Homo sapiens: one gene and its partners. The gene in region 3 interacts genetically with the main gene of each other region. Each region holds a gene or a part of one and is shown on either strand. Other genes may lie near its edges. The genes, in order: ADA, TOP1, WEE1, RB1, CDC73, KDM5C and RRM2.

Evidence for each region.
Region 1: changes in WEE1 (region 3) and ADA are lethal when combined (synthetic lethality), as found in Homo sapiens cells (one large-scale study listed by BioGRID).
Region 2: changes in WEE1 (region 3) and TOP1 are lethal when combined (synthetic lethality), as found in Homo sapiens cells (one large-scale study listed by BioGRID).
Region 4: changes in WEE1 (region 3) and RB1 are lethal when combined (synthetic lethality), as found in Homo sapiens cells (one large-scale study listed by BioGRID).
Region 5: changes in WEE1 (region 3) and CDC73 are lethal when combined (synthetic lethality), as found in Homo sapiens cells (one large-scale study listed by BioGRID).
Region 6: changes in WEE1 (region 3) and KDM5C together harm fitness more than expected from each alone (negative genetic interaction), as found in Homo sapiens cells (one large-scale study listed by BioGRID).
Region 7: changes in WEE1 (region 3) and RRM2 together harm fitness more than expected from each alone (negative genetic interaction), as found in Homo sapiens cells (one large-scale study listed by BioGRID).

What each region holds. Positions count from the first base shown.
Region 1 is NC_000020.11:44,648,900-44,653,138, reverse strand, and holds the start of ADA (adenosine deaminase), read left to right. Parts: upstream 1-1,439; 5' UTR 1,440-1,531; coding exon 1,532-1,564; intron 1,565-4,239.
Region 2 is NC_000020.11:41,035,322-41,038,821, forward strand, and holds part of TOP1 (DNA topoisomerase 1), read left to right. Parts: intron 1-3,500. UniProt on the Homo sapiens protein: Releases the supercoiling and torsional tension of DNA introduced during the DNA replication and transcription by transiently cleaving and rejoining one strand of the DNA duplex.
Region 3 is NC_000011.10:9,576,670-9,580,169, forward strand, and holds part of WEE1 (wee1-like protein kinase), read left to right. Parts: intron 1-472; coding exon 473-594; intron 595-1,358; exon of another isoform or gene 1,359-1,462; intron 1,463-3,500. UniProt on the Homo sapiens protein: Acts as a negative regulator of entry into mitosis (G2 to M transition) by protecting the nucleus from cytoplasmically activated cyclin B1-complexed CDK1 before the onset of mitosis by mediating phosphorylation of CDK1 on 'Tyr-15'.
Region 4 is NC_000013.11:48,310,251-48,313,750, forward strand, and holds part of RB1 (retinoblastoma-associated protein), read left to right. Parts: intron 1-3,500. UniProt on the Homo sapiens protein: Tumor suppressor that is a key regulator of the G1/S transition of the cell cycle. The hypophosphorylated form binds transcription regulators of the E2F family, preventing transcription of E2F-responsive genes.
Region 5 is NC_000001.11:193,125,031-193,128,530, forward strand, and holds part of CDC73 (parafibromin), read left to right. Parts: intron 1-81; coding exon 82-187; intron 188-3,500.
Region 6 is NC_000023.11:53,218,708-53,222,207, reverse strand, and holds part of KDM5C (lysine-specific demethylase 5C), read left to right. Parts: intron 1-1,291; coding exon 1,292-1,369; intron 1,370-3,500. UniProt on the Homo sapiens protein: Histone demethylase that specifically demethylates 'Lys-4' of histone H3, thereby playing a central role in histone code. Does not demethylate histone H3 'Lys-9', H3 'Lys-27', H3 'Lys-36', H3 'Lys-79' or H4 'Lys-20'.
Region 7 is NC_000002.12:10,128,827-10,131,914, forward strand, and holds the end of RRM2 (ribonucleoside-diphosphate reductase subunit M2), read left to right. Parts: intron 1-21; coding exon 22-126; intron 127-214; coding exon 215-328; intron 329-407; coding exon 408-560; 3' UTR 561-2,588; downstream 2,589-3,088. UniProt on the Homo sapiens protein: Provides the precursors necessary for DNA synthesis. Catalyzes the biosynthesis of deoxyribonucleotides from the corresponding ribonucleotides. Inhibits Wnt signaling.

The DNA of each region.
Region 1 (4,239 bases), on a different chromosome or scaffold from region 3:
CGCCTGTAATCCCAGCTACTCGGGACGCTGAGGCCGAGAACTGCTTAAAATCCAGGAGGTGGAGGTTGCAGTGAGCCGAGATTTCGCCACTGCACTCCAGCCTGGGCGACAGAGCAAGAGTCCATCTCAAAAAAACAAAAACAAAAACAAAAAAACAAAAAACAAAAATTAGCCAGGCGTGGTTGTGGGCGCCTATAATCCCAGCTACTCGGGAGGCTGAGACAGGAAAATCGCTTGAAACGCTGGGGGTGCGGGGGAGCGGTGGGGAGGAGGCGGGCCAGAGGGGCAGAGGTTGCAGTGAGCCCAGATCGCGCCACTTCACTGCAGCCTCCGCGAAAGAGCGAAACTCCGTCTCAGTAAATAAATAAATAAATAAATAAATAAATAAATAAATAAATAAATAACCTGTACCCGCGTGTTATTTCCCTCCGTCCTTACCTCCTCCCGGCTCCTTCCCTTTCACCTGAGATAACCACTCTTCTCGTATCTATGCTCATCTTTCCCTTGCTTTACATTTTTTCCACCGATGCATGTGTCTAAACATACATACTTTTGGTTTTGCTTTTACACATTCTAAAAGTTGCACCATTGTATGCAGTTTTCCGCAACTTAGTTTTTTTCACTCAACATTGTTTCTGAGACATTGTTTCTGTTGTTGTCTGGCTGAAGTTCATTCCGTTTCACTGCTGTCTAACGTTTCATGGTGTGAATATTCCGGTTTATTTGCCCACTCGCCCGTGGAGGGGCATTTGAGGGTGTTTCCAATGTTCCTGTTATTCGGAATAGCGCTGGTGTGAACATTCTGCACAGGTCTCTGGCTGCGCCTGGGCGGGTTTCTTAAAGGTGAATGCCCAGGAGGGGACTGTCTGTGTTCTCCCTCCCTCCGAGCTCCAGCCTTCCTCGCCTCCTTTCACTCCCAGCTCCCTGGAGTCTCTCACGTAGAATGTCCTCTCCACCCCCACCCACCCCTGATGAACTCCTGCAGGTTCTGCAGGCCACGGCTGGCCCCCCTCGAAAGTTCCTTAACTATACAATTATGGTGTGTGTTTCTGCGACGAGCGTCCGTCTATCCGGTGGAAGGCACGCCGCTCGAGGCTTGCGATGCTCCCGGGGTCCCCGCTTCTAGCTTGGGCCTGGCGCACAGCAGCGCCCAGACTGCAGGGGGACGCTTGAAAGTTGCTGGAGGAGCCGGGGGGAAGGCAGCGCCCAGCGAGGCGGCTGGAGCGCGCGCCCACAGGTGGGTCCGGTCGGGCGCCGCGGGGCCGTAGTTTTCGGGTCGGCGGGCGAGGACGCCGGGTCCAGAATTCCAGGAAATGCGCGATCCAGGCCGGCGGGCGGGGCGGGGGCTCCGGCGAGAGGGCGGGCCCCGGGAACGGCGGCGGGCGGGGCGGGAGGCGGGGCCCGGCCCGTTAAGAAGAGCGTGGCCGGCCGCGGCCACCGCTGGCCCCAGGGAAAGCCGAGCGGCCACCGAGCCGGCAGAGACCCACCGAGCGGCGGCGGAGGGAGCAGCGCCGGGGCGCACGAGGGCACCATGGCCCAGACGCCCGCCTTCGACAAGCCCAAAGTGAGCGCGCGCGGGGGCTCCGGGGACGGGGGTCCGGCGCCTGGGCGGCCCGAGGGGCTTAGCGGGGCCCAGCCCGGGGCGTCCAAACCCTGGGAACGAACGGGGGCTCCTGCAGGCGAGTTCTTCCTTCGGCTTAGGCCGTGGCTTGCTTGCGGGCTAATCAGGGACAATGGGGCAGAGAAGGTCCAGAACCCGGAGGCCTCCAGAGTCTGCTTCTGCCCCTGACTTGACCCCTCTGGGTCTCAGTTTCGCTGTCTGTCAAGTGGGCATCCTAGCACCGCTGAGCGCTGTGTGGGCCTGGGCAGGGACTTGAGGTCTCTGAAGCTCAGCTGTATGATCAGGCCCGATGTCTACGCCGGATAGGCACCTAGTGCTGTGCCCGGCGCCTACTGAGTGCTCAGTGAATGGAAGCAGCTTTGTACGCCAGCGTTATGGTGGTGAGCGCCAAGGAGCTCAGGTTTGTGGATGCGCCCCGGGGAAGAACCGTGAGCCCTGCCAGAAAGGGGAGGGAGGGGAGCAGAGCACCCCCCTTCCCCCGCGCGGGAAGAACAGGAGCTAGGTAGGCCCTGGGTTTGGGGCCCTAGCAGGGTTCACTCGAGGCCAAGCCATGGCCACTGGCCCCAGGGGAGAATCCCCTTGTTTCTCCGCCCACCAGCTGTGGCGTCTTGGGACTGTTGGGGTCAGGGAGGGTCTGGACCCCCTTGGCCTGTCGCAGAGTCCGAGAGGAGGGGCCCAGGAGTCTGCCAAGCAGGGTGAGTCAGCCAGTAGGGTGTGAGAGTGGTTGGGGAAGGAGTCAGCTGCAGTCAGCCTCAACTTACCCTTCTAAGAAATAGGTGTGAGTGGCCCAGGAGGTTGGCTCACGCCTGTAATCCCAGCACTTTGTGAGGCTGAGGCGGGAGGATCATTTGAGTCCAGGAGTTTGAGACTAGCCTGGACAACAAAACTAGACCCCGTCTCTCCAAAAAATAAAAAAAGTTAGGGGAAGTGTGTGTGGTGGTGCACTCCCGTAGTCCCAGCTACTCAGGAGGCTGAGGCGGGAGGATCGCTTGAGCCCAGGAGGTTGAGGCTGCAGTGAGGTGTGATGGTGCCACTGCACTTCAGCCTGGGAGACAGAGCGAGACCCTGTCTCAAAAAAAAGAGAAGAAAAAGAAAAGAAAAGAAATAGGTGTGAATGATGATGACAGCTATCACAAAAGTGCCGGTGAGAATCCAGTGAGTGTGCATGTGTCAGTGAGGGAGACAGGCTGTGGAGAGCCCACCTACCTTCTGAGGAGGGTGAGGCCTGGCCCCCACTACTGATGCCCCCAGCCCAGGGAAAATGCTCAGCTACTCCCCGTCAGAAGCTGGAAGCACTGAGGTGCTGTACAAGCCCTCCTACCCCCACCCCTGCCTCCTTCACGTCTTACTGGAGCTGGGGCCCATGATTGGCGCCTCCCCTTTGCAGTCTTTTTATTAAATGCTCTGGGCTCCCTCTGCCCTTGGGCTGGGGACCCACTGTACCCTGATGTGAATCCTATGGCAATAGCAAAGCTCTTTGATTGGCGGGGTGCAGTGGCTCACGCCTATAATCCCAGCACTTTGGGAGGCAAAGGTGGGTGGATCATGAGGCCAGGAGTTCGAGACCAGCCTGGCCAACATGGCAAAACCCCATTTCTACTAAAAATATAAAAAATTAGCTGGGCATGGTGGCGGGCGCCTGTAGTCCCAGCTACGCAGAAGGCTGAGGCAGGAGAATGGCATAAACCCAGGAGGTGGAGCTTGCAGTGAGCCGAGATCTCGCCATTGCACTCCAGCCTGGGTGACAGAGTGAGACGCTGTCTCAAAAAAAAAAAAAAAAAAAAAAAGGCTCCTTGATTGCGAACATGTTGGGAGTTATGGAGAGAACAGCAGGGCCCACTTCTAGAGCACTTGTTGCAGACACCCATTGGATCCTTGCAGTTCTTCTGTAACAGCCCATCAAGGGAGGGGCTCATATTATTATCCCCATTTTTTGGCCTTGCTCAGTCCTCCCATCTGATTCAAGCTGGCAGATCATTTTCCCTATTGGGACCTCAGTGTCCACACCTGGAGGATGGAACATCAGCTGCTTATGTGGGTGTCCCGTGTCCTGAGTCCCAAGGCCACAAGGTGATGCTTGAGAGTGAAGGTAGAATGTTACCTGCCATGTGTTTGAGGCGTGACAAATCTTGTATGATTGTGAGGAGGAACTTGTGTGAGCTGGCAGGAGAAGTGGGAAGGAGTGTGAATCTCAGAGCCACTGTGACCAGAGCCAGCTCCCTGCCCTCTTGTGGGAGGGACAGATGACAGTTATAATTATTAGCATTACTAGCTGCAGCTAATGGAGTGTTGATGTTTCTGTGCCAGGCACCGTTCTAAACACATTATCTGCATTTTTTATTTAATCCAGGCACAGAGAGGTTAACTAGGCCCAAGATCACACAGCTAGGAAATGTCCAATCTGGGGTTTGAGTCCAAGGGAGGCTGGCTTCGAAATCCCATGCCTCTAACCATCTTTCCTAAACTACCTCTGCAGAAGCCTTTGGGGATAGAGGTGCCAGTGCCCCAGGTGCAAACCTCCTGAGACAGGAGCCTTTGCTGTGTCCTTCAGCTTCTCATACCTGCCACCAGCTGAGGCCTGGGACCTGGTCAGCTAGAAGAAAGCAGAGCAGGGCAGC
Region 2 (3,500 bases), on a different chromosome or scaffold from region 3:
CAGATTTGGGGTGGGGAGGCATCTCTACCAGGCAATTAATTCCCCTCTGAGCCTTTGAAATTAACATTTTTGTTTCTGTGGATTCAAGGAGCCTAAAGAACACAGTTCATTAGCATTCCTAAGAAACACCTAGGTAAGCTCCAACAAAAGATGTTAAAGCAATCAGTATTTTTAGGGACTTCAGATCTCCTGTATTTGTTGTTGTAAATGATGATGTTGGGAAAAGAATTTAACAGATCCCTGGGTATTCTGACGTTTTCCTATATTTTAAGAACGAAACCGACCCAGCCAGCTTGTGGTCCCATTATTCTTTATATTGTTTTTCTTAGCACACGCTAGCAAAGATAGATGCCTAGGACTTTTCTTGGCTATTGGAGTTTATAGAAAAAAAGTTCTTTGTTGAAGGTTAGTCCTCCACCAGAATAATACACCCTTTTTCCCCTTAGTAGAAGTCCAAATGTTAATCTTGCTATCATATATGTATGAATGCCCAGATTTATAAAGCTTTGTAGGTATATTACTGATTGTGCAGGAGACTAATCTAGGAGGCTTCAGGATCATTGTCATTTGTGGATCTCATTGGCTAAGACCTTTTACTTAACCTGACTCCAGTAAGGTAGCCCCTTTGTTTCCTTGTAGTTGACTATGTGAGCTCTTGCCAAGCAGCAGAAGTGGGATGAAGGGAACTAATTTTGAAAACTTATTAGGCACCACATTTTTATGTGCATTAAATCTGAATTGAATAAAGATAATATAGATTGCATAGGCTTATGGGGAGAACCAGAGACCAGGAAAGGAAACGTTTTTTTCTTTTTACCCTTTATGCCTTTTCATGTCCCCTTTTTGATAACATGCTGCCTTGGTCCAGATTCTGGAAACCCCACTCAGGCTGTAATTGGTAAGCTTCTAGTACAGATGTCAGAACCTGCCCTTGATTATCTGCTGTTAGAGATAGCTTGGACCCTTTGTATGTGGAATGTTAGGTCTAGGGGAAGAGTGGGGGTGTGAGGAGACAGCTGTGGTAAAATAGAAAATTGGTGTAGGATTCCGAAAAATCGAGATAAGTCCCTGTTCTTCCTATGAAACATGATCTGACCACTGAACCTTGTTTTCTTATCCATAAGCAAGGATAATATTTATGTTTCACAAACTGTTGAGAATTAGATAAGTATATGAAGGTGCCTCTCTGTCCTCATTGTAAAATGTAAACTTTGATGAGACAGCCTCTATTCTCAACTGGATCTTTATTTTGAATGTTAGGTTTGAAATAGTGATTGATGTTGGGGAGTCTGTCTTTCATTGGTATTCCCTGTTAAAGTTTTAAATCTTCTTGACATTTACACAGTGAATTGTAACATGTAACTAGTGTTGTTGAGTCTTTACCTAATTGAATCAGCAGAGCCTACACTGATGTCTTCCAGTTACAAAGCGGTCACTGTAAAGTAAAAGGTGTCTTCATATCTAGGTTTGGGCTGAGAAGGATCCAATTGTATATCTAGTTCCTACTTTTCTTTTTTTTTTTTTTTTGAGATGGAGTCTCACTCTGTTACCCAGGCTGGAGTGCAGTGGCGCAATCTCGGCTCACTGCAAGCTCCGCCTCCCAGGTTCACGCCATTCTCCTGCCTTAGCCTCCTAAGTTGCTGGGACTACAGGCGCCCGCCACCACGCCTGGCTAATTTTTTGTATTTTTAGTAGATACAGGGTTTCACCGTGTTAGCCAGGATGGTCTCGATCTCCTGACCTCGTGATCCACCAGCCTCGGCCTCCCAAAGTGCTGGGATTACATGCATGAGCCACCGCGCCAAGCCTAATTCCTACTTTTCTAAGAATGTTTACAGCAAAGTGGTCATTGCCAAAGGAACTTGTAGCAGTACAGAAGATGGGCTCAGAAATGAAAGAAGTCTATTGATGTGACTAATTTCTCAACCATTTAATAGAATTATGGATTTTCTATTAAAAATAACTTGACCCTTTTCGATGCATTTAATAAAATGCCAAGTTCATTATTTGTTAATTTTTTAAAACCACAAAATTCAATATGTCTTGTGTCAGCATATTTTTTCAAAGGCCACTATTTTACTTCTCCCCCAAAACGTTTTTAAATTAAACAGAGAACTCTCAAAGCACCTGAGAATTACTTCAGTTTTTCATTTATTCAAATAGTTGCTTAAAGTGACCAACTTGGTTTTCTTTGAAATAGTAATTCTTGGGAATAAGAATACCTTAAATAATATAATAAAGCTTATGTGTGAGAATTTAGTACCAAATGCCGTGTTAACAGTTATGCGTGAGTATAGGCATTTGGGAGATTCCATGAAAAAATTTGATAAAGTCAGTAGAAATTTCAGTAATGGCTCATAAGTCTAGCTAATGCTGAATATTGAATTGCCTTGAATTTGTTTTTTTGGAAGTGTTACTTAAAGGAAATAAACAAAAGTCATTTAAGGATGTGTTCACTAGTGTTCATTAGGTTTAAGCCAAATGGATCTTAGTAGAGATCTTACGCCATTCAGCAAAAGGATTATCACAGAAGCATCACAACAGGCGCAGACTTAAATTCAATTAAAAGTAGGCAGGAGGACATAATTTTGTTGTATAGAAATTATGGAATAGGGCCTAATTTTAAAGAGTCTTCAAAGATAAACATATCAGGAAAAATATAGCTCATAAAATATGGGGAAAAAAATCTGGGAAGATGAGTATTTGTTAATGCTCTGTAGCTCCATTGCCCTCAGTATACAAGGAATGTGCCCACAATAGGGTTGGATTTAAAAGTCTTCAAAGCTTTGGTCTCTTTTTCTTTCGTTTTCCTCTGATACAGAATGCGAATAGTCTCCCGGCCTCCAACCCCCTCTACATCCCCACCACCCCATAATAGAGACTTAAAGGGAATTTAAATTCGAGTTCTTGAGCTTCTGCTCAATGGCTAGGTCTTTGAACAAGTTAATATCAGAGCCTTAGTTCTTCACCTATAAAGTAGGTTTAATACTTACCTTACAACATTGAGGATTAAAGAGCATGAGAGGATTACTTTATGAAAGGTGAAGCTTAGAACAGAATTTTTAGTTCCTTGCCAATGCTAAAAAACAACAACAACAACACCTTTTTCAGAAATTGCTTTATTAGGCTTTTGTACAAAGGGAACATCTTTACTTTCTTTAAATTTGCACATATATCTATTGTGAAATTTTAACCAAGCTGGAGGGGTCACTAGGGAGCATTGAGTATGATACTATTGCTGTAAATCATAGAAAGGCTGGCTCAGGAGGGTACTGACTTGCTTTGACTTTGCGGCAACTTCAGTTGTCCAGTGACAAGGCTTGCTGCATACACACCACTTTGTTTGTTTCTCATACCTTAAATTGTGGATTAAAAATCTTTGGGGCAGGCCTGGAGGCTCATGCCTATAATCCCAGCACTTTGGGAGGCCGAGATGGGCAGATCACTTGAGCCCAGGAGTTCAAGATCAGCCTGGGCAACATGGGAAAAACCTGTCTCAA
Region 3 (3,500 bases):
AACATTTTGTCTTTTGCTCTTTTGTCCCCTATGGTGTTACTAACATTAAGGTTTCAGCTGGTCAAACACTGAATTCCATCTCTAACTTTTGAGAAGCTGTAATGATTTAATCAGGTCCTTTTCACTTAATACCATCAGTTCTTATTGGACTTGTTGAATAATATGAGTCTGATTTTGGAACCTAACTTAAATTTCTTATTTCTAGTCAGCATCCATGAATTCACAGTAAAATGGAGTTTATTCTTACCTGAGTCCTAGGGCAAGCAACATTTCTTCTTTCTGATAAATCTTTAATGGAATCTGCCTTTGGAAAAATCTCTTACAAGTCTAAACCCCTTCTCTCTTAAGCAAGTTGCTTTTTAGCATAACAATAGATACCAAAAATTTATTGTATGAAGTTTCAGATAAATTAATTCAGTTTAAGCTTGAGTGAAAATTATTTACCATTCTATTAATCTCAAATTTCTTCTAGGCAGAACGCTTTGAGAGAAGTATATGCTCATGCAGTGCTTGGACAGCATTCTCATGTAGTTCGATATTTCTCTGCGTGGGCAGAAGATGATCATATGCTTATACAGAATGAATATTGTAATGGTGAGTGATGTAATGGTTTTCTTGTGAGCTTGAGAAAATGAACATCGAGGAAATATTTATGGTTATCTAAAATCTTGCTCTATTTCTGTCACTTTTATCTTTTATAAATTTAAAGATCAGAGACCTAACATAAATTTCAAGTACAAGGTTAAAAACCTTGTCCTTTCTGAAGCACCTTGTACATATCTCAGTAGTAGAACTTCGCATACTATTTATGTGCTTGTCGCTCCAACTGAGCTTTTTGACAAGACTATGGCCTCGACACATATATTTTGGTGTCCGTAGTACCTAGCGTAGTGTGTGAAGCATATAGTATTATGAAGTGTTAAGTTGAATAGATTCTTCCTGTGTCTGGTCTTTGATTTCCATTTCATGTGAGGTGCTGCTAAAACTGATGTTTGTTAGTCACTGAGTCTCTGTTGATCTAAATTCAGCTGTTTCTTTAAGCATTCTGTAGTCCGGCCCTACTCCCACGTATCCAACCTAGTCTACCCTAGAATCCACTAACGCTTTATTATGTTACATTCTTTTAGTTCTCTAGCTTGTCGTCTCTCCCTCCTCTCCCCTAAGGATGAAACAAAACAGGCATGTATAGATTCAAGTTTGGATGTCTTGTATAGCTTTCAGTTTCGGTAAGTCCTTCAAGGGCCGACTTATGTCTCTCCTTTTCTATTAAAAACCTTTACCAAAGTCTTGGTCAGAATTCTGGTTCTTATGGACGTCTGTCATTATTATATACCAAATCTTTTATGGATTATTTCTCAACACTTTTGTAGTTTATAAGTGTGATGATTGGGTTTTCATACTCAAGTGTGAAATGTGCCTCCCTCAAACCTTGTTACGACATCAGCACATTACCAGTCTGAAATGAAAAATATCTGTAGTTTGTTTCTATTTCTGTATATCTTCTGTGAATATAGACAATTTAGAGTTTAGTGAACACTTGAGAGGAGATAACAAAATTTATTTTTGTTGATTCTTATTATTCCTTAAATAAACAAGACCAGTTATCTCATAACTTGTAAATAAATAAGTGGTGTAGGTATGGATTCAGGTTCCCCATATTTAAAAACAGTGAACAAAACAGAAGTAAAAGATCCATTTTTCAAACCTGATTCCTCATTATTTAATAAAGTTCTCCACACTTGAAAGAACTTGAGTGTCTAGTATACAGCCTTGCTGCTAGTTTTTTTCACACAGCTCTTGAAATGTTTCTATTCATACCATCAAAATATTTATGTAACTATCACAACCTTATGGATTATTCTATTTCTTAACCTTCATTTTTCAGGTATTGCATTTAACCTAGAACAACTTGACCACAATGTCGTCTCCATTTGATATTTGTTAGACACCATCTCTTTTCAGTTTCCTTCTTTCTCTTTCTCACCTTCTTGATGTGAATAATTCTCTTAACAGAATAGTTCATTAGTAGTCCAGGAATGTCAAATATGTAGCAACCTACCAATACATGGTTGTGTAAATCAGATGATTCTGAGAAAACTCACGTGGGCCTGGGAGATAGGGAACTGAGTGAGTAGTCTTGCTACCCTCTCAGATTACAAAAACCTTGTCCTGTAATGTTAGATTATAAAATAATCTATTGAAAATAAGTTTTTATTTATTTATTTATTTATTTATTTATTTATTTATTTATTTTTGAGACAGAGCCTTGCTCTGTCGCCCAGGCTGGAGTGCAGTGGCGCAATCTCTGCTCACTGCAACCTTTGCCTCCAGGGTTCAAGCGATTCTCCTGCCTCAGCCTTTTGAGTAGCTGGGATTACAGATGCGCGCCACCACTCCCAGCTAATTTTTGTATTTTTAGTAGAGATGGGGTTTCACCATGTTGGCCAGGCTGGTCTTGAACCCTGACCTCGTGATCCACCTGCCTCGGCCTCTTAAAGCAATATAAAACTCTTGAAGAAAATAAATAGTCCTGCATGAAACAGGACTGCCTCTTTGTGTGGCTATTTGTCCTACTTAGATAAAAGAAAATACGACTATCTGGATGCATTTGTGATCTCTTTTGTTTCCTGTGTCCACCGTTCCTCTCTCCACATAAAGCTTTGAATATACCAATAGGGCTCATCTTCACATCTTTTCCACAGTTTCACTGGAAAAGGATTCTGATATTTATTTGTACATGAGTAACTGATTCCCTTTATTGTGATTTAATTTCCTTATTATCTTATTCATTTGCATTATAAGCCTTTTATCTTGGTTTGGTGATAGATTGGAATTAACCTGTATAAACAAGTGTAGAAAAATATTGATGGATAGGGAAAGAGAACCTGAAATGTCAGAACCTGTTTTGCTCTCATCACCTTTCTTGCCCTTCTAGCAATAAGAGAAGAAATGGGCACAGCTATGGTTGCTGGACCTGCTAAAAAAGAGAATTAGCCATATTCTTTCTTAGCACATTTGATCTAGGACTTAGCCTATCTTGTCTGACAGCGTTATTGGTTTGCTCCCTTCTAGAGCACTCTTTCCCCTCCCTCAGTTCAAGATTTGTACAAGTAAGGAGAACATACTTAAGACTAAGATACCGAGATGTATAATTTATTTTAAAAACACATTTGACGTTATGTTATTTTCTTATTTAAATTATAGGACCTCCTTTTCTGACTAATACATCATTGACCTTCCTAATTTTAGTACCCAGCTCTGATTTTTTTATTCCTAAGCCTTAAACAGGAGATATTTAAAACAATTCCTCATTGCCTTTGAGATGAAATACAAACTTTAAAAGTTTGAAAAAATATAAACAAATTAACTGATTGATTTAACTAATTCTATAAAAGCAGGTTATGGTCTCATTCATAGTAAGAGTAGTATAAATTATAACTATACTAAAATACTGTCTTTTTACCTATAACATTTATAGACTTGTCAAGGGTATGGGGAAA
Region 4 (3,500 bases), on a different chromosome or scaffold from region 3:
TAAATGTGTTTCCAGTGCAGCTATTCTAGTGGCAGTTGTCTCTCTTCTTTGAAACAAGAGGAGGAATATTGTCAAAAAGGAAACCCTTTTTAACAATAGAAAGTAGGTGATGTTTATTGGGATAGAGGATGGGTTAAGAGCAAGGATTAAGAGTCAAACAGATATACCATGTCCGAACTCCATTATCTTGAACATGTTATCTACAATTTTCAAGCCTTAGTTTTCTTACCTGTAAAAGGGACTGACAGTAATTTCTGGATCTTGGAGTTATGTGCAGATTAAATAAATTAATGCATATAAAGCTCTTATTAGAGTCAATGAGTATGTATATTAGGTCTTGCAAACAGAATAATTTTACTTAAGAAATACCCCAGAAAATTTTATCATTGATGTATTTTTTTTTAGGAGAACTTAGGATATCAGTTAAAATGGTTACAATTTTAAATGCATTGTAGTGATTTTGATGTAGTAATGTTTGTTAAAATTCTTATTTTTAAGTACTTTAGCATCAGAAAAGTTGTTTATGCATACATGAAAGCATATATTAATCCCTTTAAAGGAAAAGTTTGTGGTATTTTGTCTAGAAAAGTGTTTTCTTTTTTTAAAATAAATATTTAGTAAAGTGTAATAATAAAGATTAGCTTTGTTCATAAGGTTAGATTGTATTTATGCTGATTATAGCATATGAATAGGACTTTCCATTAAGAAATTGGCTAAGGTGATGTTCATATTGTGACTTAAGGTGAATCAGCTGTTAGAATTTTGGTTTACTTTCTGCATCTTGATTGGTAGTATGGTAGAATGGAAAATGCCTTGGACCTCAAGGCAGGAAACTTTGGTTGTAATTATATTGTAGCTATATGATTTTAGGCAAATTGGTTAATTCTGTGAGTCTCAGTTTGCTCACCTGTAAGGCAGAAATAATGCCTGAATGTGAACCTCATAGGCTTTTTGTTATACATACATATATATGTATATGAAATGTATGATATACATATCTCAAAGAGCTTTGGGATATATTGCTCTTGATAGAACCACTTACTTATTTTTGTGATATGGTGGTTATATTTTAAATAAATACAGTCATGTGTTGCTTAACAATGGGAACACATCTGAGAAATGCATCATTAGGTGATTTCATCGTTGTGTGAACATCATAGCATGTACTTACACAAACCTGGATGGTATAGCCTATGACACACCTATGCTGTGTGGTATATAGCATGTTGCTCCTAGTCTGCAAATGTGTACAGCATGTTACTGTACTGAACATTGTAGGCAATTGTAACACAATGGTAAGTATTTGTATATCTATACATAGAAAAGGTACAGTAGATCATCCATATCCTTACTGATTTTCTTTCTATGTGTTTTACTAATTATTGAGGGAGAAATATGAAGCCTCCAACTATAATTAGAATGGTCCTTTTAAATTCTGTTTTTTATTAATGTATTTTTTATTTTATTTTATTTTGAGATGGAGTCTTGCTCTGTCACCCAGGCTGGAGTGCGTGGCACGATCTCGGCTCACTGCAACCTCTGCCTCCCGGGTCCAAGCGATTCTCCTGTCTCAGCCTCCCGAGTAGCTGGGATTATAGGCATGCGCCACCACACCCGGCTAATTTTTGTATTTTTAGTAGAGACGGGGTTTCACCGTGTTAGTCAGGCTGGTCTCGAACTCCTGACCTCATGATCTGCCCTCGGCCTCCCAAAGTGCTGGCATTACAGGCGTGAGCCACTGTGCCTGGCCTTTATTAGTGTATTTTAAAGCTTTATCCTTGGGTACATACAAGTTTAGAATTTTTATGCCTTTTAGGTAAATTGGTACCTTTATCATTATGTAATGTGCTTTTTTATCCAAATTTATATCTTTTGTTCTGCAGTGTCCACATATCGATTCCACTTTTCTTGTGATCACTCTTTACAATGTGTATCGTTTACCTTCATTTTGATTTTAACCTATTTCTTTTTTATATTTAAATGGATTTTTGTTGTTTTGTAATCAGCATTCATTAAAAATTTTTAGCTGAATACTTTTTACTTTTGTTAGGGTTCCCTGTGTCTCTTCCTTTCATGTTGTGCCACAGATGAGCCATTATTTATATCTTTTCTCTCATTGGAGGTTCCTTTTTTTAGGGGAAATTAAATAATCTGAAATATAAGGAAAGGATATGTTGATTTCAAGAAAGGTTGTTTTTGTTCCTTATCTGGCTTGTTCTTGTTGTGAGGGTGGGAGCAATACTCTTTGCAGCTTTCTGCATTCTAGGAAGAAGTGGAATTTTACACTACCATTTGCTTTCTTTACAGGTTTACCTTGGTATTCAGTGTCTGTCCATAGGACTAATTAAAACTATACCAGACTCCTTCTATTTTAAACCTATCCGTTCAGTCTCAAGTTATCTTTTTGCATTGCCTCTCACGTCTGTCCCTTCATTTCTTTTACCAGCAGTGCTTGGTTTTTACTGTTTGCTTTGGTTTTAATTTCCTTTTTATTTTTTTAATTTCAGAAGGTGGAAGCTTATGTCATTGACTTGAGCATTTTTTATGCATGTTTTAGTGCCTCTTTCTGACTAGTCTCTTCTTTTCTCCATCCAATCCATCCTGTGCCTGATTTTTAGAAAAGACTGGTGTACAGTTTGCCCCTTTTGCTTTAAAATTTATTTTTCATTGTTACAACCCACTCTCAGTAGCCTCCATTGTAACACCCTCCCATGCTCCCACCACCATTATGAAGAAGTAAAGTCCAAACTTTCTCAGTATTTGTAGTTCTTCATGGTCTGTGCTTTAACCTTCCTTCCAGTCTTATTTTTTATTTCCATTGTTGGCCCCCAATGCCTGTGTTCTCTTCCCTTCCATATGAATCTTCCATATGAATATCTTCCATATGAATATGATAGTATTCATATTCATGCGATCTCCCCTTTTTTTGGAATACCCTTCTTTTTTCTTTTAGCCTAAATTCTGTTTTTAAGATGCAGTTAAAGCTTCTCCTTTATGCATATCTCTTATAAGATATATTATTTGCAGACTTTTCCCCCCATTCTGTGAGTTGCCTTTTCACTTTCTTGATGATGTCATTTGCAGCGTAGGATTTTAATTTTGATGAAGTCCAGTTTTCTATTTTTTTTTTGGTGGTGGTTTTTTTTTTGGTTGCTTGGGCTTTTGATGTTGTATCTAAGAAGGCCTTGACTAACCCAAGGTCATGAAGACTTATTCTGTGCTTTCTTCTAAAAGTCATATGGTTTTTAGTTCTTGTCAGTCTTGGGTTTTTTTTTGTTTTTTTTTTTTGAGTTAATTTTTGTGTATGATGTGAGGAAGAGGTCTAACTCCAGTCTTTTGAATGTGGATATCCAGTTGTCTCTGCACCACTTATGGAAAAGACTATTCTTTCTTCATTGAATTGTTTTGGTGCCCTTGATGAAAATCAGTTGACTATAAAAACCAGGGTTTATTTCTGGAGTCTCAGTTCTATTCCATTGCTCTGTATGTTTATTCTTTTT
Region 5 (3,500 bases), on a different chromosome or scaffold from region 3:
AAGTTGTTTATATAAATGAATCCAGCCTGAAGAGTTGAATTAGAATTGTCAGTAAAAAAAATCTTGCCTTAATTATTTCAGGACTGGAAAGGAAGGCCAACCCAGAGAGTACTACACATTGGATTCCATTTTATTTCTACTTAATAACGTGCACCTTTCTCATCCTGTTTATGTCCGACGTGCAGCTGTAAGTAGAATTCATTTTACTTATCTATCTATTTATCAGTTTTATTTTTATTTATTTAAGAGACAGGGTCTGGCCTTGTTGCCCGGGCTAGGGTGCAGTGGTGTGATCATAGCTCATTGCAGCCTCGAACTCCTAGGCTCAAGTGATCTTCCCACCTCTGCCTTCAAGTAGCCAGGACTGCAGGCCTGTGCCACCGTATCTGGCTAATTTTTTTTGTTGTTGTTAAAGATGAGGGGGTCTTGCTGTGTTGCCTAGGCTGGTCTTGAACTCCTACCCTCAGTGGATCCTCCTGCCTCGGCCTCCCGAAGTGCTGGGATTACTGGCATGAATCACTGTGCCTGGCCAATAATTCATTTTAAAACTTTTTTTTTTTTTTTGAGATAGGATCTGGCTCTGTTGCCTAAGCTGGAGTGCAGTGGTGTGATCTCGGCTTACTGTACCCTCTACTTCTCGGGCTCAAGCCAGCCTCCCACCTCAGTCTCCTGAGAAACTGGGACTATAGGCATGGCCCACCATGCCGGGCTAATTTTTGTATTAACACATTTTTTTTTTTTTTGGCTTCGTGGTAGTAGGTATCATTTGGAATGGATAGCTTCCCTCATGGGTTTCAAATCAAAAGAATGAAAGGTTTGTATGAGTGTCTCCAGGAGAGTCAAAATTAGGTGACTGTGTGACTTACACAGACTTTTTAATCTGTGATATTTTTTCATGTAAAGTGTGGGTAATGTTTATAACAAAGGAAGTTTTAAAGGGATTTATAGAGCCAGGCTTCTTAGTGCACGCTGGTAATCCCAGCTACTTGGGACTCTAAGGCGGTAGGGTTGCTTGAGCCTAGGAGATCAAGACCAGCCTGGGCAACATAGTGAGATGCCATCTCAAGAAAAAGAAAACCCGAAACGCTAAAAGTATTTATAGAGATGTTTAGAAAAACTTGTAAGCCTGTGGAAGGACCCTGTTACTTCAGAACTCTAGTTTAATCTCAAGAAAACTTTTTTTGGTTGTAAGGATTAAGATTAGCAGACATTTAAAAAAATTGTTTCTTAATCAGTTTTGTGCAGCTGTTTTAGTACTCTGGAGAAGTTCATTTGTTTTTAGTTTTGCTTGCTTTCTCAGTGTTTGAAAATTTATTACTCAGAGGAAATATTTGGAAACAACTTGAAAAGAACTAATTTCATAAACTATGATGATGAGATTCTTCATCTGTAGGGAAGTATCATTAAGACCTAAATTATAGCAGTATATTATAATTGATAAGTAAATAAGATTCAGAGTTATTTGGATAGGATAGCTGTATGACATGGAAAAGTACTATAATGCCCACATAAAATGGCCTAAAAGATATTTAATTTTTTTAAATGAGCTTTTCCCTCAGATTATTTTTGGTAGAGTTGAACATAAAATTTTTTGAAGATATAATTGAAATAATTAAATGTCTGCTTTTAATATTTGTTGCTTTTGCTTACAAGTATACACTTAAAATTAAGTATGAAATGTATTTATAAATAACTACTTTTTCCCATTTCTTATAGTTCTTAAAACAATCTTCTTAAACTTTTCTTATAGTTCTTAAAACAATTTTTTAAAATATCACTGTGTCTGTCATCACTGGAGCTGCTTTTTGAGTTACCTAACACCGTTGCTGGATCACATTAAGCTGTGTGAAACTTAACTTCTATAACTCTAACCTCCCTCCCAACTAGAAATAGTTAAGGTTTCTGGCTTATGTATCTTTCAAACAATAACTTGTTGTCTAAAGCAACTAAAAGCCAGGTGTGGTGGTGCATGCCTGTAGTCCCAGCACTTTGGGAGGCTGAGCTCAAGTGGGAGGATCACTTGAGCTCAGGAGTTCAAGACCAACCTGGGCAACATAGGGAAACTTTGTTAAAACAAAAAATAAAAAAAATTAGTCAGGCGTGGTAGTGTGCACCTATACTCCCAGCTGGCTACTCAAGGGGCTGAGGTGGGAGGATCACTTGGGCCCAGGAGGTTGAGGCTGCAGTAAGCCATGATCACACCAATGCATCTATCCTGGGTGATAGAGCAAAGACTCTGTCTCAGGGAAAAAAAAAAAATGTGTGTGTGTGTGTGTGTGTGTGTGTGATTATAGCAATTGAGAAAGTATCCCGTCACTTAGTGGGCTTTGTATTAAACCATAAGGCTTCTGCTTTCCTGAGTAAGAAATATATATTTATGTTACATATTTAAAAAAATAAAATTAGAGTGGGACTACTTGGGAAAATAAGGGGAAAAAAATAGCACCAGCTCCGTCTTTAAGGTTATTTTAACTCAGATCTTTAAAAACTAAATTAGGTAGTTCTTACAGTGTTTTGTTGGATATATTCATTTTAGTGTAACAAAGATTCAGATAGTTGGCTTAGATTTATAGATTCTGTTTTTGGGAAATGGTTGTGCATATAACTGATAGCTGTAATTGTTACTGTGGACCTTGGGACCCTTGGTTGCATAAGATTTAACTCATTTTTCATAAGTATTTGCCAGATTGAAAGAGTAGGATTCTAAAATTCCAAAATTCTATGAATTCGAGATTGTTGTCTCCTAATTACTTTGTGTTATTTGCTCTTTCCTGTGCGCAGACCACTCATTTTTTTTTTTTTTTTTTTTGAGTGCAGTGGCGTGATCTCGGCTCACTGCAACCTCCGCCTCCTGGGTTCAAGGGATTCTCCTGCCTCAGCCTCCCAAGTAGCTAGAATTACAGGCACACGCCACCATGCCTGGCTAATTTTTGTATTTTTAGTAGAGACGGGGGTTCACCACGTTAGCCAGGTTGGTCTTGATTTCCTGACCTCGCGATCCGCCCGCCTCGACCTCCCAAAGTGTTGGGATTACAGGCGTGAGCCACTGCGTCCGGCTGAGCAGACCACTCTGAAAACAGATTCCTGATCCTTAGTTCCTATTTTAGTGTGAGTAGATGTAATCTTTTTCAGTGGATTGTGATGTGTACATAACTCAGTAGTGACCAAATGATGATGTAAGTTATTAGACTTAGAAACAGTAACTTAAAATTAACTCAAATCTTTTAACTGTTTATGATATTCCATATAGACTGGTTTATTTTTATTTTTTATTTTTTTTTGAGACAGAGTCTTGCTCTGTCACCCAGGCTGGAGTGCAGTGGCAGGATCTTGGCTTGCCACAGCCTTACCCTCCCGGGCTCAAGTTGTCTTCCTCCTTCAGCCTCCTGAGTAGCTGGGAGTATAGCTGGGACTGCAGGCGCTTGCCACCATGCCTGGCTAACTTTTATATTTTTGTAGAGTTGGAGTTTTTCCATGTTGCTCAGGCTGGTCTCGAACTC
Region 6 (3,500 bases), on a different chromosome or scaffold from region 3:
TGTCTCTCCCCCCCGCCCACGTGTATGCATGTATGTATGAACATTGATGTCTGGTGTAGTGCAAAGGCCTTGGATCAGAGGTCAGAAGACGTGGGTTCTTGGCCCCACCACTAACTCAGCATGTAATTTTGGAAATTTCACTTTTTTTCTCTGAGCCTCACTTTCCCCATTTATAAAATGAGAACATTGGTTTAGGTTACTTTAGGTTGATTTCACCACCCCAGCAGGAGCCAGGGCTCTGGGAAGGAGAGGTCTGCATAGGAGGTTGGAAAGGGGTGTTGGAGAGGGGGTTCTTCACAGCTGACCTTTGGGCAGGACACAGCAAGCTCCAACTTGGCAGAGCAGAGTGTCTCCCACTTTCATGATCTTTCCCTGACTTCCCTCCCCAAATCCTCCCATTCTTTGCCACCACAGTCAGGCATCCCAGCACTTACCCCCACCCCCTGGGGCTTCCTCCCCTGCCTCTTCCTGTACCAGGCAGGTGTATGAGAGAGGATCTACAGGAAGCCTTCCAGACTGGGTGAGTGATACACATACTTGCTCCCTGTTCCTTGCTCTTCCCTGCAGTGTCTATCTCAGGCCCTTTAAACTGAGAGAACAAACATTAAAGGCCCAAACCTTTACGTCCTGCCACAATCGGACCTGAGCTACCCTGCATGTGTATTGTGAGGTGTGGTCAGCCTTAGATGTCAGGTCATAACGGTGACTCCTTTGAATAACATTTTCATTTGAAAACTAGTTTTAATTTTCCATATTGGTCTGGCAAGGAAGCCAGGGCTAGAGTTCATATTCCCACCTCACAGATGAGAAAACAGGTTCAGAAAGCTAAAATCTCATAGCTAGTAAGTAGCGGATCTAGAACATGAACCCATATCTTCTGACTCTAGATCCTGTGTGCTTTCCAGTACTCCCAGGCCTGTGTGTCCTACAGCACGTGCCTAGGGGATAAGGAATTAATGTGGGTGTGGAGAAGGTTTAGGGTCAACAAAACAGAGGCTCCATCTCTTAATTTCTTGAAATCCTGGCACTGTACTGTTGGGTGGGACTCAGGAGAAGTTTCCTAGGGCATGTGCATGGGGCCTTGGGTGCAGACTTGAGGGGCTGCTAGACTCTTGTGAGTTCTGGGGGGAGGTGGGGGTGGGTGGTTGGGTAGGATGTTTGCAGGTTAAAGGGTCTGGAGTGGCTAGAGGTTTGGGAAGGTGCCAGTGGGATTCCGAGCTGCTTTTGGTGACTTCCGGTCTTACACTATGCTGAGATAACTCAAGTCCCTTTCCCCTCTCTACCCTCTCAGGACTGGCAGCCACCCTTTGCTGTGGAAGTGGACAACTTCAGGTTTACCCCCCGAATCCAGAGGCTGAATGAGCTAGAGGTGAGAAGACTAGGAGCTGGTGGTGGGGTTGGGAGAATGTATACCTGAGTTCTAATCCCACTTCCCTTATAGTTTCTCTGGCTGAGGTACTTTACCTAGCTAGGCCTTTATTCTCTCTTCTGTGAAATTGCATTACTTTAGTGTGCCCAGGGCGTGGAAGAAGCTTTAGAGCTCTAAATATAACCAAGAGCCAGGGGCATTTAGCATTTGTGATTTGATAGCCCAAAGGCTGGGGACATATATCCCTTTCTCACAAAGGTTTGCTACTTCTGAAACTCCCCTGTAAACTAGCCTACCCTAGCTGAGTCAACAAAAAGGAATTATGGAACTGGCTGATACCCCTTCTTCCTTGGCCAGCTGAATGTGGCTTCATATATCCAATTCATCCACAGCCCTGTGCTTTCTACTTTGCTTCCATGGGTGCTTGGTAAGGTGGGAGTTTGGGTAGATGGGCAGAACAACACAAGAACTGGGCTCTGTGGAGGCTGGAATGGTTAGAGACTTGGCCAGGGGTCAGGCAGGTAGGATTTTCCTTCTCCCTTTTGTTCTGTACAGGAAGTCCAGGCCCTTTTCATGGACAGGTGGGGTTTTTCCTGCTTGAGAATGCCCTGGGGTAGTGAGATTAGGTTCCCTAAAGCCAGTTCCACGTAAGATCCTGGAGTTTTCCATGGCAGCTCTAGGTTAGGCATATGTTGCCACTCCCTCCCCCATTATTATGTACCCACAAATCTTAATAGATGTCCAAGGGGTGGGGCATTAGGCCCAGGCCCAGCTGAATACTTATACCCTAAAAGTTCACTTGTGTTCTAGACCAGAGTTCCTCAGCCTCGGCACTATTAACATTTTGGGAAGCTAAGGTGGGAGGATTGCTTGAGCTCAGGAGTTCAAGACCAGTTTGGGCAACATAGCAAGACCCCATCTCAGAAAAGAAAAATATATCTTGTCAGGTTTATAGGGGTACAGCTTGGGCAAGATGTTGCCTAGCATGACACAAGGGCAGGTTTTCTGTAGAGGGAGTGCTGACTAATAAGAAGGAGCAGGGATGAGGCCAACTTCAGAAAGCTAAGGGGCTGAGGTTGAAGGAGCACTTCCTTGCCCTTTGAGAGTTCTCACAGCCAAGGAACTGTAGGTTGTTTCTTTCTACAAATAGACCTTAGTTTTTCTCAACTATGAAATGGAAAGAGCTGTCTTTGTTCCCCCTAATGGGATCAGGGCAAGGTAGTGAATGGTAATGACTATCTAGTTCTTCCAAGAACCAGGCTCTCTGACTGGAGTGAGGAGGTTGTAGACTTGGGGCCTATGGGAGTCCTTCTTGGTTACTGAGATTTCAGGGAAGCATCATACATATCTTGTTTCTAGTCTCCTTGGCCCACATTGGGTCCTGGGTTGGCCAGGTGCTAGTGCTACTCTGATATACCATCTCTTAGTTCTAGGCCATTCTGTCTATAGTTATAGCATGCACTTTCACCCTTTAGCCACCATGGAACAAGTTTGGTGGTACATAAGGAGGTGCATGTGCCTTTTTGGAGCTTGCTTTCTCTGAAACATGCCTAGAGCTTAGATATAATTCTGAAATCTGCAGAGGATCTTCACTGGTCCCCTCATTAAGTCTACCCCTCTGGGGTAAGTGGACTGTGCAGTTATTTTCCTTTTATAATTATTAGTAAAAGGAAAAAGGAGTCCACAGTGGAACTGATTTGCTCAAGGCAGCATAGCAAATCAGTAGCAGAGGGAGAGCCAAAGCTCAAATTATTTGGCACCAAAATATCTTGATGCTTGCTGTGTGTCCTAACTCCTCTGAGCCTCTGTTTCCTCATCTGTATAGGAGATGATAATACTCACATGACCTTGTCAGGGAGATTAGAGGACATATCTAAAGCTTTTGGCAGTTGTGACCCTCTCTATTGGGACCTTGGGCTTCTCTGATTGACTGGAAGGTGACAAATGAGAGAGAGGTGGCTGGGTGCAGTGGTGCAGTGGCTTGTGCCTGTGATCCCAGCTCTTTGGGAGGCCGAAGTGGATGGATTGCTTGAGCTTAGGAGTTTGAGACCAGCCTGGTAACATGGTGAAACTTCATTGCTACAAAAAATACAAAATTAGCCGGGCGTGGTGGCGTGCGCCTATAGTTCCA
Region 7 (3,088 bases), on a different chromosome or scaffold from region 3:
ATCTTGAACTTTTTTTTCTAGGGTTTACACTGTGATTTTGCTTGCCTGATGTTCAAACACCTGGTACACAAACCATCGGAGGAGAGAGTAAGAGAAATAATTATCAATGCTGTTCGGATAGAACAGGTAAAGTGGGTGATGAAATGGGTCACTCAAGCTTGCTAGAAAATGCCTGTGCTTTAGTTGTATTCAGAAGCTGTATTTTGGTTCCTAGGAGTTCCTCACTGAGGCCTTGCCTGTGAAGCTCATTGGGATGAATTGCACTCTAATGAAGCAATACATTGAGTTTGTGGCAGACAGACTTATGCTGGAACTGGGTTTTAGCAAGGTAAAGTATTGTTTACATAGCCTTTTGCTTGTTTTGAAGCTGGTGCTCTGTATTTATATCTTGATGTGAACCTTTTCAGGTTTTCAGAGTAGAGAACCCATTTGACTTTATGGAGAATATTTCACTGGAAGGAAAGACTAACTTCTTTGAGAAGAGAGTAGGCGAGTATCAGAGGATGGGAGTGATGTCAAGTCCAACAGAGAATTCTTTTACCTTGGATGCTGACTTCTAAATGAACTGAAGATGTGCCCTTACTTGGCTGATTTTTTTTTTCCATCTCATAAGAAAAATCAGCTGAAGTGTTACCAACTAGCCACACCATGAATTGTCCGTAATGTTCATTAACAGCATCTTTAAAACTGTGTAGCTACCTCACAACCAGTCCTGTCTGTTTATAGTGCTGGTAGTATCACCTTTTGCCAGAAGGCCTGGCTGGCTGTGACTTACCATAGCAGTGACAATGGCAGTCTTGGCTTTAAAGTGAGGGGTGACCCTTTAGTGAGCTTAGCACAGCGGGATTAAACAGTCCTTTAACCAGCACAGCCAGTTAAAAGATGCAGCCTCACTGCTTCAACGCAGATTTTAATGTTTACTTAAATATAAACCTGGCACTTTACAAACAAATAAACATTGTTTGTACTCACAAGGCGATAATAGCTTGATTTATTTGGTTTCTACACCAAATACATTCTCCTGACCACTAATGGGAGCCAATTCACAATTCACTAAGTGACTAAAGTAAGTTAAACTTGTGTAGACTAAGCATGTAATTTTTAAGTTTTATTTTAATGAATTAAAATATTTGTTAACCAACTTTAAAGTCAGTCCTGTGTATACCTAGATATTAGTCAGTTGGTGCCAGATAGAAGACAGGTTGTGTTTTTATCCTGTGGCTTGTGTAGTGTCCTGGGATTCTCTGCCCCCTCTGAGTAGAGTGTTGTGGGATAAAGGAATCTCTCAGGGCAAGGAGCTTCTTAAGTTAAATCACTAGAAATTTAGGGGTGATCTGGGCCTTCATATGTGTGAGAAGCCGTTTCATTTTATTTCTCACTGTATTTTCCTCAACGTCTGGTTGATGAGAAAAAATTCTTGAAGAGTTTTCATATGTGGGAGCTAAGGTAGTATTGTAAAATTTCAAGTCATCCTTAAACAAAATGATCCACCTAAGATCTTGCCCCTGTTAAGTGGTGAAATCAACTAGAGGTGGTTCCTACAAGTTGTTCATTCTAGTTTTGTTTGGTGTAAGTAGGTTGTGTGAGTTAATTCATTTATATTTACTATGTCTGTTAAATCAGAAATTTTTTATTATCTATGTTCTTCTAGATTTTACCTGTAGTTCATACTTCAGTCACCCAGTGTCTTATTCTGGCATTGTCTAAATCTGAGCATTGTCTAGGGGGATCTTAAACTTTAGTAGGAAACCATGAGCTGTTAATACAGTTTCCATTCAAATATTAATTTCAGAATGAAACATAATTTTTTTTTTTTTTTTTGAGATGGAGTCTCGCTCTGTTGCCCAGGCTGGAGTGCAGTGGCGCGATTTTGGCTCACTGTAACCTCCATCTCCTGGGTTCAAGCAATTCTCCTGTCTCAGCCTCCCTAGTAGCTGGGACTGCAGGTATGTGCTACCACACCTGGCTAATTTTTGTATTTTTAGTAGAGATGGAGTTTCACCATATTGGTCAGGCTGGTCTTGAACTCCTGACCTCAGGTGATCCACCCACCTCGGCCTCCCAAAGTGCTGGGATTGCAGGCGTGATAAACAAATATTCTTAATAGGGCTACTTTGAATTAATCTGCCTTTATGTTTGGGAGAAGAAAGCTGAGACATTGCATGAAAGATGATGAGAGATAAATGTTGATCTTTTGGCCCCATTTGTTAATTGTATTCAGTATTTGAACGTCGTCCTGTTTATTGTTAGTTTTCTTCATCATTTATTGTATAGACAATTTTTAAATCTCTGTAATATGATACATTTTCCTATCTTTTAAGTTATTGTTACCTAAAGTTAATCCAGATTATATGGTCCTTATATGTGTACAACATTAAAATGAAAGGCTTTGTCTTGCATTGTGAGGTACAGGCGGAAGTTGGAATCAGGTTTTAGGATTCTGTCTCTCATTAGCTGAATAATGTGAGGATTAACTTCTGCCAGCTCAGACCATTTCCTAATCAGTTGAAAGGGAAACAAGTATTTCAGTCTCAAAATTGAATAATGCACAAGTCTTAAGTGATTAAAATAAAACTGTTCTTATGTCAGTTTCTTGATTGGTAAAATTTGCATTTTAATTCAGGAAGAGAAATATTTTTTGGCCAGGCATGGCTGTAATCCCAGCACTTTGGGAGACCAAGGTAGGCAGATCACCTGAGCTCAGGAGTTCGAGATCAGCCTGGCCAACATGGTGACACCCCATCTCTACTAAAAATACAAAAATTAGCCTGGCATGGTGGCACACGCCTGTAATCCCAGCTACTCGTGAGGCTGAGGCAGGAGAATCACTTGAACCCGGGAGGCAGAGGTTGCAGTGAGCTGAGATTGCACCGCTGCACTCCAGCCTGGGCAGCAGAGTGAGACTGTCTGAAAAAAAAAGGTGTTTTTTGTAAAGGCTAACGAATTCATTTGCTTTCCACTGGTTCTGGGCAAGAGACTTGCCTTGTGCCTATTGGCACAAGGTGTATAGGAGACAGGTACACCCGAAAGGTGGTGCCCAAAAATACTAACTGCCATACTGCACGTGGGGTTTGTGAAGCCGGGGCTG